2 linked regions of the Homo sapiens genome follow. The protein of the gene in region 1 interacts with the protein of each later gene in a pairwise test. Each region holds a gene or a part of one and is shown on either strand. Other genes may lie near its edges. The genes, in order: SERF2 and BOLL.

Region 1 (3,917 bases):
TATAAATACATATATGGATATTAGAGAGAGAGAGGCAGACAGGGAGAGGGAGAGAGAGAAAGTGTGAGAGAGCTTTTTTCTCTGTATCTTTCATGATTATAGGAATATGCTGTGCTCATCAAGATATACCCAATTGTGGCTGTGCACCGTGGCTCACACCTGTAATCCTTGCACTTTGGGGGGCCAAGGAGGGCGGATCACCTGAGGTCAGGAGTTCCAGACCAGCCTAGCCAACATGATGGAATCCCATCTCCAGAAAAACAAAAATACAAAAATTAGCCGGGCATGATGGCGGGTGCCTGTAATCGCAGCTACTTGGGAGGCTGAGGTGGGAGAATAGCTTGAACACAGGAAGCAGAGGTTGCAGTGAGCCGAGATCACGCCAATGCACTCCAGCTTGGGTGTCTCTTATTAACTGTTTATTTATTATTTATTTTGAGATGGAGTCTGGCTCTGTCGCCCAGGCTGGAGGGCAGTGGCGTGATCTCGGCTCACTGCAAGCTGCTGCTCCTGGGTTCACACGGTTCTCCGGCCTCAGCCTCTCAAGTAGCTGGGACTACAGGCGCCTGCCACCACACCCAGCTATTTTTTTTTTTTGTATTTTTAGTAGAGACGGGGTTTTACCGTGTTAGCCAGGATGGTCTCGATGTCCTGACCTCGTGATCCACCCGCCTCTGCCTCCCAAAGTGCTGGGATTACAGGCGTGAGCCACCTTGCCCAGCCTTTCTTATTAACTCTTTTTTTTTTGAGATGCAGTCTCGCTCTGTCGCCCAGGCTAGAGTGCAGTGGTGCGATCTCGGCTCACTGCAAGCTCCATCTACCGGGTTCACGCCATTCTCCTGCCTCAGCCTCCTGAGTAGCTGGGACTACAGGCGCCCGCCACCACGCCCGGCTAATTCTTATTAACTTTTTTTTTAGACGGGATCTCGCACTGTCGCCTGGGCTGGAGTGCAATGGCGCGATCTCGGCTCACTGCAACTTCCGCCTCCCGGGTTCAAGCGATTCTCCTGCCTCAGCCTCCCAAGTAGCTGGAATTACAGGCGCGCCACCACGCCCGGCTAATTTTTTGTATTTTTAGGGTTTTCACCATTGTTGGTCAGGCTGCTGGTCTCGAACTCCTGACCTTCTGATCTGCCCACCTCAGCCTCCCAAAGTGCTGGGATTACAGGCGTGAGCCACCACGCCCGGCCCTCCAGGGTCTTAATACAAAACCGGGTGGCTGGTGGCGATGGTACAGTAAGAAAAGCTCCAGAGGGGAAAAGCGAATATGTGAATTATCTAATCTCAGCCACTGATCCAACTCCATAGTCTGTGACTTTTGGAGTCCTCCAATACTTCCAAGCTGCATGTTCACATTTAAAGTTTCTGGGGGAAAACGAACAGGGTAGAGTTTTAGGAAATACCAGATGTTGCTGCGATTTTCTACAGTGAAGGGGCGTGGAAGGGGACAATGGGAGTAGAAGCGGGTTTCTGAAGTTGTGTTTGTACTTGATTTTAAGCGAGCTGTGAACAACTCGTGTCCAAATAAGTGGCTGAGAGGTGGTCCTAAGTAAGCACAAGTTTAGTAGTAGAGTACTCGTAACACAGAACTGGCTGAAACCCCGCCCTCTTGTCTACGGGCGTTCTTTCAGGGCGACTTTGTCAGTACCCCAAACTGTCCCCGCATGAGGTCACTCTGCACGGTCACGTGCTCGAGCCCGCGGGAGCGCCACATCGCCAGCCGCACCCCTCCACCCCCAACCTGCCCACGTGACCCGGCCTAGTTTCTCCAGGCCCGTCCCTACGTCTCACTCGGGAAGCCCCGCCCCACGCTGAGCGCTCCGCCTGCGACCCTCCGCCACTTACCCACCCCGGCTCAAGCACGACCCGTGGATCCACGTGCTTTTTCTTGTCCAATGGGAGCCGGCTCCCGGGCGCGAAGGGGCGGGGAGGAAAGGAACGACTGTGCTACGTTGCCAGAAGGGGCGGGACCTGCAACGTCCGACAGAACGAGGGGACGTAACGGAGGCAGGTTGGAGCCGCTGCCGTCGCCATGACCCGTGAGCACCGAGCCCCCTTCTCCTTGCCCTTTTCTTTCCGTTCACCCTAAACACCACCGGCGAGGCGCCGGCTTTGACCTTCCGTAGCTTCCCTAGCAAGGCGTTTCTCTGGGCGCGCTCTGTGGCCACCCTCACACTCGGTGCCCGGAAATCGAGCCCTTTGCCCACGGCTACTTCACGGGACCACCCTCCCGGGTTAGGCATAGGCCCTCCCGGATCTTCCGCGGTGTAAGGAGAAGGCCAGCGCCCCTGTGATAGGCCCAGAGCCCCCACTCCACAAGCCAGCCCATCCCCCACGGAGACCCAAACCGTCCACACACACCTTGCCAGCTGTTTGGGCCCCACGCCGCCCCAAAACACGCCTCCAGCTGGCCCCTTGGGACCTCCCTTCTCTAGTCCGTATTTTGACCTGGCCCGTGGCAGATTCGCCACTCCCCCCTACCCCAAGCAGCCTGGGCCTCGATGGGCCGTTGTCGGGGCCCGGAGATTGAAGTGGTGTTGGATCCTGCTGCTGGCCGCGCTGGGGTAGAAGGGTCGCCGGTGTGTGGGCAGAGCGGCCCCCGCGTCTCACCTTTAATTTTCTTTCCTTAGGCGGTAACCAGCGTGAGCTCGCCCGCCAGAAGAATATGAAAAAGCAGAGCGACTCGGTTAAGGGAAAGCGCCGAGATGACGGGCTTTCTGCTGCCGCCCGCAAGCAGAGGTAGCCCCAGGGAGGGGAGGGAAAGGGACGGTGGAGACCTGGGTTAGACCAAGGGTTATAGAAGGAAAGAGAGCTACCTCAGGGCTTGAATGTGGACTAGTCGTGAGGAGCAGAGTGCATTGCTTCCTCTAGGGTTTTATTTCCTCCCCACCCTCCAAATTGTTAGCTCACAGCCTTACAGGAAAGGACGGGGGCGGGCGCCTGCCCTCAGTCTGATTTCTGAGCGTCCCTGGGTCTGACCTTAAGGGCAAGGGCAGGGAGCTTCACATTTCAAATACAGTTGTGGTTACGGCAGCCCAGTACTTTTGGCCCTCCTTGCTGTTCGGTTCTCCTCCCTTCTCCCAACCTCCTCACTGGTGTTGCTGGGTGTGGTCCTCAATACAGAATAGAGACCCTTGGGCCTGTGTCACCAGACTTCTGACCCCTTGGGCAACAGCCAGATGGAGACTGGTCGCCTTTTGAGCCTCAGCTCTCTTCCTCTTGTTCTCCTAGGGTGGGAGTACAGCAGCCAAACGCTGAACTTAGTCCCATCCACTTCCATCTTATCCTTTGTGCCCTTCATCCCCCTGCATCTTGTCCTTTTTGCCCTCTGGTACCTCCCAGTGCCCCATCATCTCTACCCCCAGGGACTCGGAGATCATGCAGCAGAAGCAGAAAAAGGCAAACGAGAAGAAGGAGGAACCCAAGTAGCTTTGTGGCTTCGTGTCCAACCCTCTTGCCCTTCGCCTGTGTGCCTGGAGCCAGTCCCACCACGCTCGCGTTTCCTCCTGTAGTGCTCACAGGTCCCAGCACCGATGGCATTCCCTTTGCCCTGAGTCTGCAGCGGGTCCCTTTTGTGCTTCCTTCCCCTCAGGTAGCCTCTCTCCCCCTGGGCCACTCCCGGGGGTGAGGGGGTTACCCCTTCCCAGTGTTTTTTATTCCTGTGGGGCTCACCCCAAAGTATTAAAAGTAGCTTTGTAATTCCTTGAGCGCCTGGTTTGACTGGGGACTTGGGGGGATGGGGTTGGAAGAATGACTGCCCTTTCCCACCAAAAAAGGGAGAACTCTTTAGATTCAGATTGTGGGTATGTAGACTTAATAAGTGAAACATCACAGAAGAAGCCTTTATTATACAATGACAACCAAACAAGTACTCCGGATATGCAGTAGAGGAATCCTCTAAGAACCATAGAGACTTC
Region 2 (3,917 bases), on another chromosome or scaffold:
GTTTTTAATCTTGATCCATCAGAGTCACAGGGTGACTTTGTCTGATGTTGGTGTTCTGTTAACAAGAGAACACCACAGCCTAGCTGTGAGTGCCAGGCCAACTCCTAACAACACCAGGGTGTAGTTGATTGTGTCAGGCTGGGACTGTTTTCTCTTTCTCAAACATGTTCATGAGTTTAATATTCCCCTTAATAATTAAGTAATAGGTTTGATAATAATATAAGCATTTTAAGTAATATATTTAATATTTAAAATCTCTATAGTGGAGTAGATTCTGTGTTTCCTAGTTCTGTTGCCTTAAAAAGCTCTTAGCTCTAATTATAATTTTTATAATATTAAAAGTAAAGCCTAGAATACTATATTTTGCCTAAATGACTCTTCTTTTTGAAAAATATATGTTTTTGGTCTGCATCAAAAGCAGACTGCATTATACCCAGTGCAAAAAGTGTAAAAGAATTTTATTTTACAGCAAACATCAAACCAGATGCAAACAGATTCATTATCTCCATCCCCTAATCCTGTGTCACCTGTGCCTTTGAATAACCCAACAAGTGCCCCAAGATATGGAACAGTGATCCCTAATCGCATCTTTGTAGGAGGAATTGATTTTAAGGTACCTATTTATGCATGCAGTAAAGTGTATTTTTTCATTAGAAGTCTTTATTTCTCAGAAATTATTTCTTTGTGCAACTATAAAATAACATATTTGCATAATGATTAACAGATTTTGAATTATCTTATTATAAAGAATCTTTTCAACCAGCATGTAGGTTACATAAAGCATTAAAAACTGTTCAATGTCAGATATAAAGAAATTGATCCTCACTGACTTGCTGTGGGCTGCTAGCCACATAGTGACAGAGTGAGACTAGAAGCCTAGTTTTCTGTCTCATAGCTCCATACTCTTCCATACCAGAACTAATTATACTTTCTTGCCTAATATTCCAATAGCCAAAATAATTGATTATTATAATTTTCAAAAGAGACTCTATTTTTTAAAAACTTACTTTTATGAAATACTATTTCTTTACCCCAACTCTTATCTCAGATTCCTGAGCAACCTCCTAGGCATCTATTCTTTGCAAAGCACTTTCTATGTTAGAATTTAGGATTTGATCACCAAAAAAGTCCTGTGTCCTTGTCAGAATAAAGCATCTTAAAAGTAGTATATTTAAGCAGAAAAAAAAATAACTATTCGGTACTAGGCTTAGTACCTGGGTGCCAAAATAATCTATACAACAAACCCCAATGATGAGTTTATAACAAATCTGCACGTGTACCCCGAACTTAAAATAAAAGTTTTTTAAAAACTAATATATTTATATCATGTAATCAGCCATTCCACTGTTTCAAGAAAGCATAGTTCATGACATGATGTGCAGTGCCCCCCAGCCCACATAGGGGAGGTAAGAGTAAACACCTACAAGAAAGGCATGCATAGATATTTTAAGTGGAATACTCTTACTTTCAAATGGATATATAGAAGGATTTCCAAGCTTCTATTTTACATATTAGAAATTATAGGGAGAGTTATCATTTTCAACAAAAAAAAAACCTTCCTTATGCCATTAGGTGTGATATTTGACATTTATAACTATTTCCATATAACCAATCTGTTACAATTTGGGTGGAATTTCTTTTTTCCTGCACAAGAGAAATGTTACACTTAGTGTATTTGCCAAAACAATGAGTCTTAAACAAGTATATGATTGTTTCACTAAAAATAAAGTAAGAAAAATTATTTCTTATAAAATATTTATTTTTAAAAAGATTTTCTTTGTGGAAAATACTGATAGCTGGCAGAAATGTTCAATTTGGGAATTCATTTATATTACAATAGATTAGCATGTTTTTAAAAATAAGTTATCAATAAATATAAACATTTGTATGGCCAGGTTATTTTAGGTTACTGAAGCCCATCAGCTACAGCATGCACTTTGGAGACGGTTGTTATAATGCAGCCATAGCTTTAAGGTAATTGCTAGGGCTTCCTCCTGTATACTTATACCTTTTTCAAAACCACAGATAAAGGCCAGCAAGGAAATCATTTACTTTAATAGCAAGTAGTCACAGACTTTTTAACCTTTCATTTTTATAAGCAAACAGACTATCCCTCTTAATGCTTACTTTTCTTGACTGTCTCTTTGTCACTAAAGAAGTGGAGCTACAAAATTGAGGTAGTGATTATTCTACCAGAGAATAGTTGGAATTAATTTGTATTCAAATATCTAGTAACAATTCTTATTCTAGCATTGATTTCATTTTCTGTTAACTGAAATAAAAGTCATTCAGTTTTTCTTAGATTGAATCAGTATTTGTCATTATGCAGCTTAGCAGGCTTTATGTTACCAACTAAAAACCAATAGTGTATGTAAGTAGTGAGGTGGCAGTTGAACTCAAAAGGCATAGCTCTGCACTAAGGCATGTCTTTTTGCAGTGTATATAAAGAAATTTTTTTCTAGAGAAAAGTTACTCTTGTAGACAAACAGTTACAGCTAAACCAGGAAATGAAATTGCAATGAATTTAGTGTCAGTATTCTGAGAAAAGGTGATATGAGTCTATTATCAGACTATTTCAATTAAAAAAACAGACATGCCAAAACCATCTTTGTAGACACCTTGTATGCTTTAAATCTAATTATGATTCCAATTTTTATTTTATTATCAAAACAATGTCTGAATTTAGCTGAAATGTATATTGAGTACAGATAAGGAATCTAATAACTTTAAATCTTATAGTCACTCCATTGTTCTCACAGTTGAGTTCAAGCACTTTTGGAAATACATTCCTTTCCTAAAACTGACTTAGGAAAGGAGTTCCTGAGACTACTGATTAAAATAGAATGACTGGTGTAGGCCAACACAACCTAGTTCCACTGCCATGACTGTCTCTGAGCCACAAGAGCCAAAATAGTATTGTACCCTTACTATGGAAATAGCATTCCTAATCCAAATTGGCTTTTTAAAAACTGGCCAGCTAGAGAACAAGAATCATTTAAAGATTTCTTTAAATAGTGAGTTTTGTAGTTTTAAAATAATTCAGCTTACATTTTTATTGGCATATGGTAATTTAACAACATAGCTATTGCATAAAGCAAGATATTTACCTTGATTTTAATCACCTAGTGGTTTATGCACTGTTTTGATGATGAGAGGCATTTTTCATGCATCTTATCTATAACTTTTTCTGTCTCCAGAGCAAGCATGAGAATTATTCATCTTTTATCAACTAAAAATGCTTTTTAACGTTTTCTTTTTATGCCATTAGACAAACGAAAGTGATTTAAGAAAATTTTTTTCCCAGTATGGGTCTGTGAAAGAAGTGAAGATTGTAAATGACAGAGCTGGAGTATCCAAAGGGTTAGTATCACTATAGATTGTCTATGGAATTAGCAACTCTATTTTCATTGGATGACTAGGTTTTGTACGCCAGTTTACTTTGGTTCCATTTTCCAGCAGAGACCATCATGCCCTCTTCTTTCCTCCTACCTTTTGATTTCCTTGTGTGTGTGTGTGTGTGTGTGTGTGTATTTTGGAGGGAGGAGACACTGTAATATTTCTTAATTTGTTGAGAAGTTATTCTTGCATGGGTGGAGGGACCATTCAGTGGTAGGCAGCAAGCACTTAATGTAAGTAGCAGATGTACATTAGCTGAGGAATGAGAAGCAAAAGGAATCAGATTCTTTTGGAATTGTATCCCTGCTTTAGGCCATAGAGAGCTTTATTTGAAAACAGCTGACACCAAGAAATGTCTGTAGGTTGTGCCTCAGAGACCTAATTAGGGGACCAGTATGAGAAATATAATTCTAGTGAGAATGATTTTTAATTGCTATATCAATGATAATGAAAATTGAGAAGAAAGTAATAGACTGTGTCTTTAAATGTGTATAGAGCTGTTTCAGTGGAATGCTATGTGT

What was found.
Region 2: the proteins of SERF2 (region 1) and BOLL interact in a two-hybrid assay, tested with the Homo sapiens proteins (2 studies listed by BioGRID and IntAct).

What each region holds. Positions count from the first base shown.
Region 1 is NC_000015.10:43,790,345-43,794,261, forward strand, and holds the start of SERF2 (small EDRK-rich factor 2), read left to right. Parts: upstream 1-1,975; 5' UTR 1,976-2,032; coding exon 2,033-2,039; exon of another isoform or gene 2,040-2,267; intron 2,268-2,630; coding exon 2,631-2,739; intron 2,740-3,231; coding exon of another isoform or gene 3,232-3,365; coding exon 3,366-3,429; coding exon of another isoform or gene 3,430-3,628; 3' UTR 3,629-3,917. UniProt on the Homo sapiens protein: Positive regulator of amyloid protein aggregation and proteotoxicity. Induces conformational changes in amyloid proteins, such as HTT, driving them into compact formations preceding the formation of aggregates.
Region 2 is NC_000002.12:197,778,418-197,782,334, reverse strand, and holds part of BOLL (protein boule-like), read left to right. Parts: intron 1-469; coding exon of another isoform or gene 470-484; coding exon 485-613; intron 614-3,268; coding exon 3,269-3,360; intron 3,361-3,917. UniProt on the Homo sapiens protein: Probable RNA-binding protein, which may be required during spermatogenesis. May act by binding to the 3'-UTR of mRNAs and regulating their translation.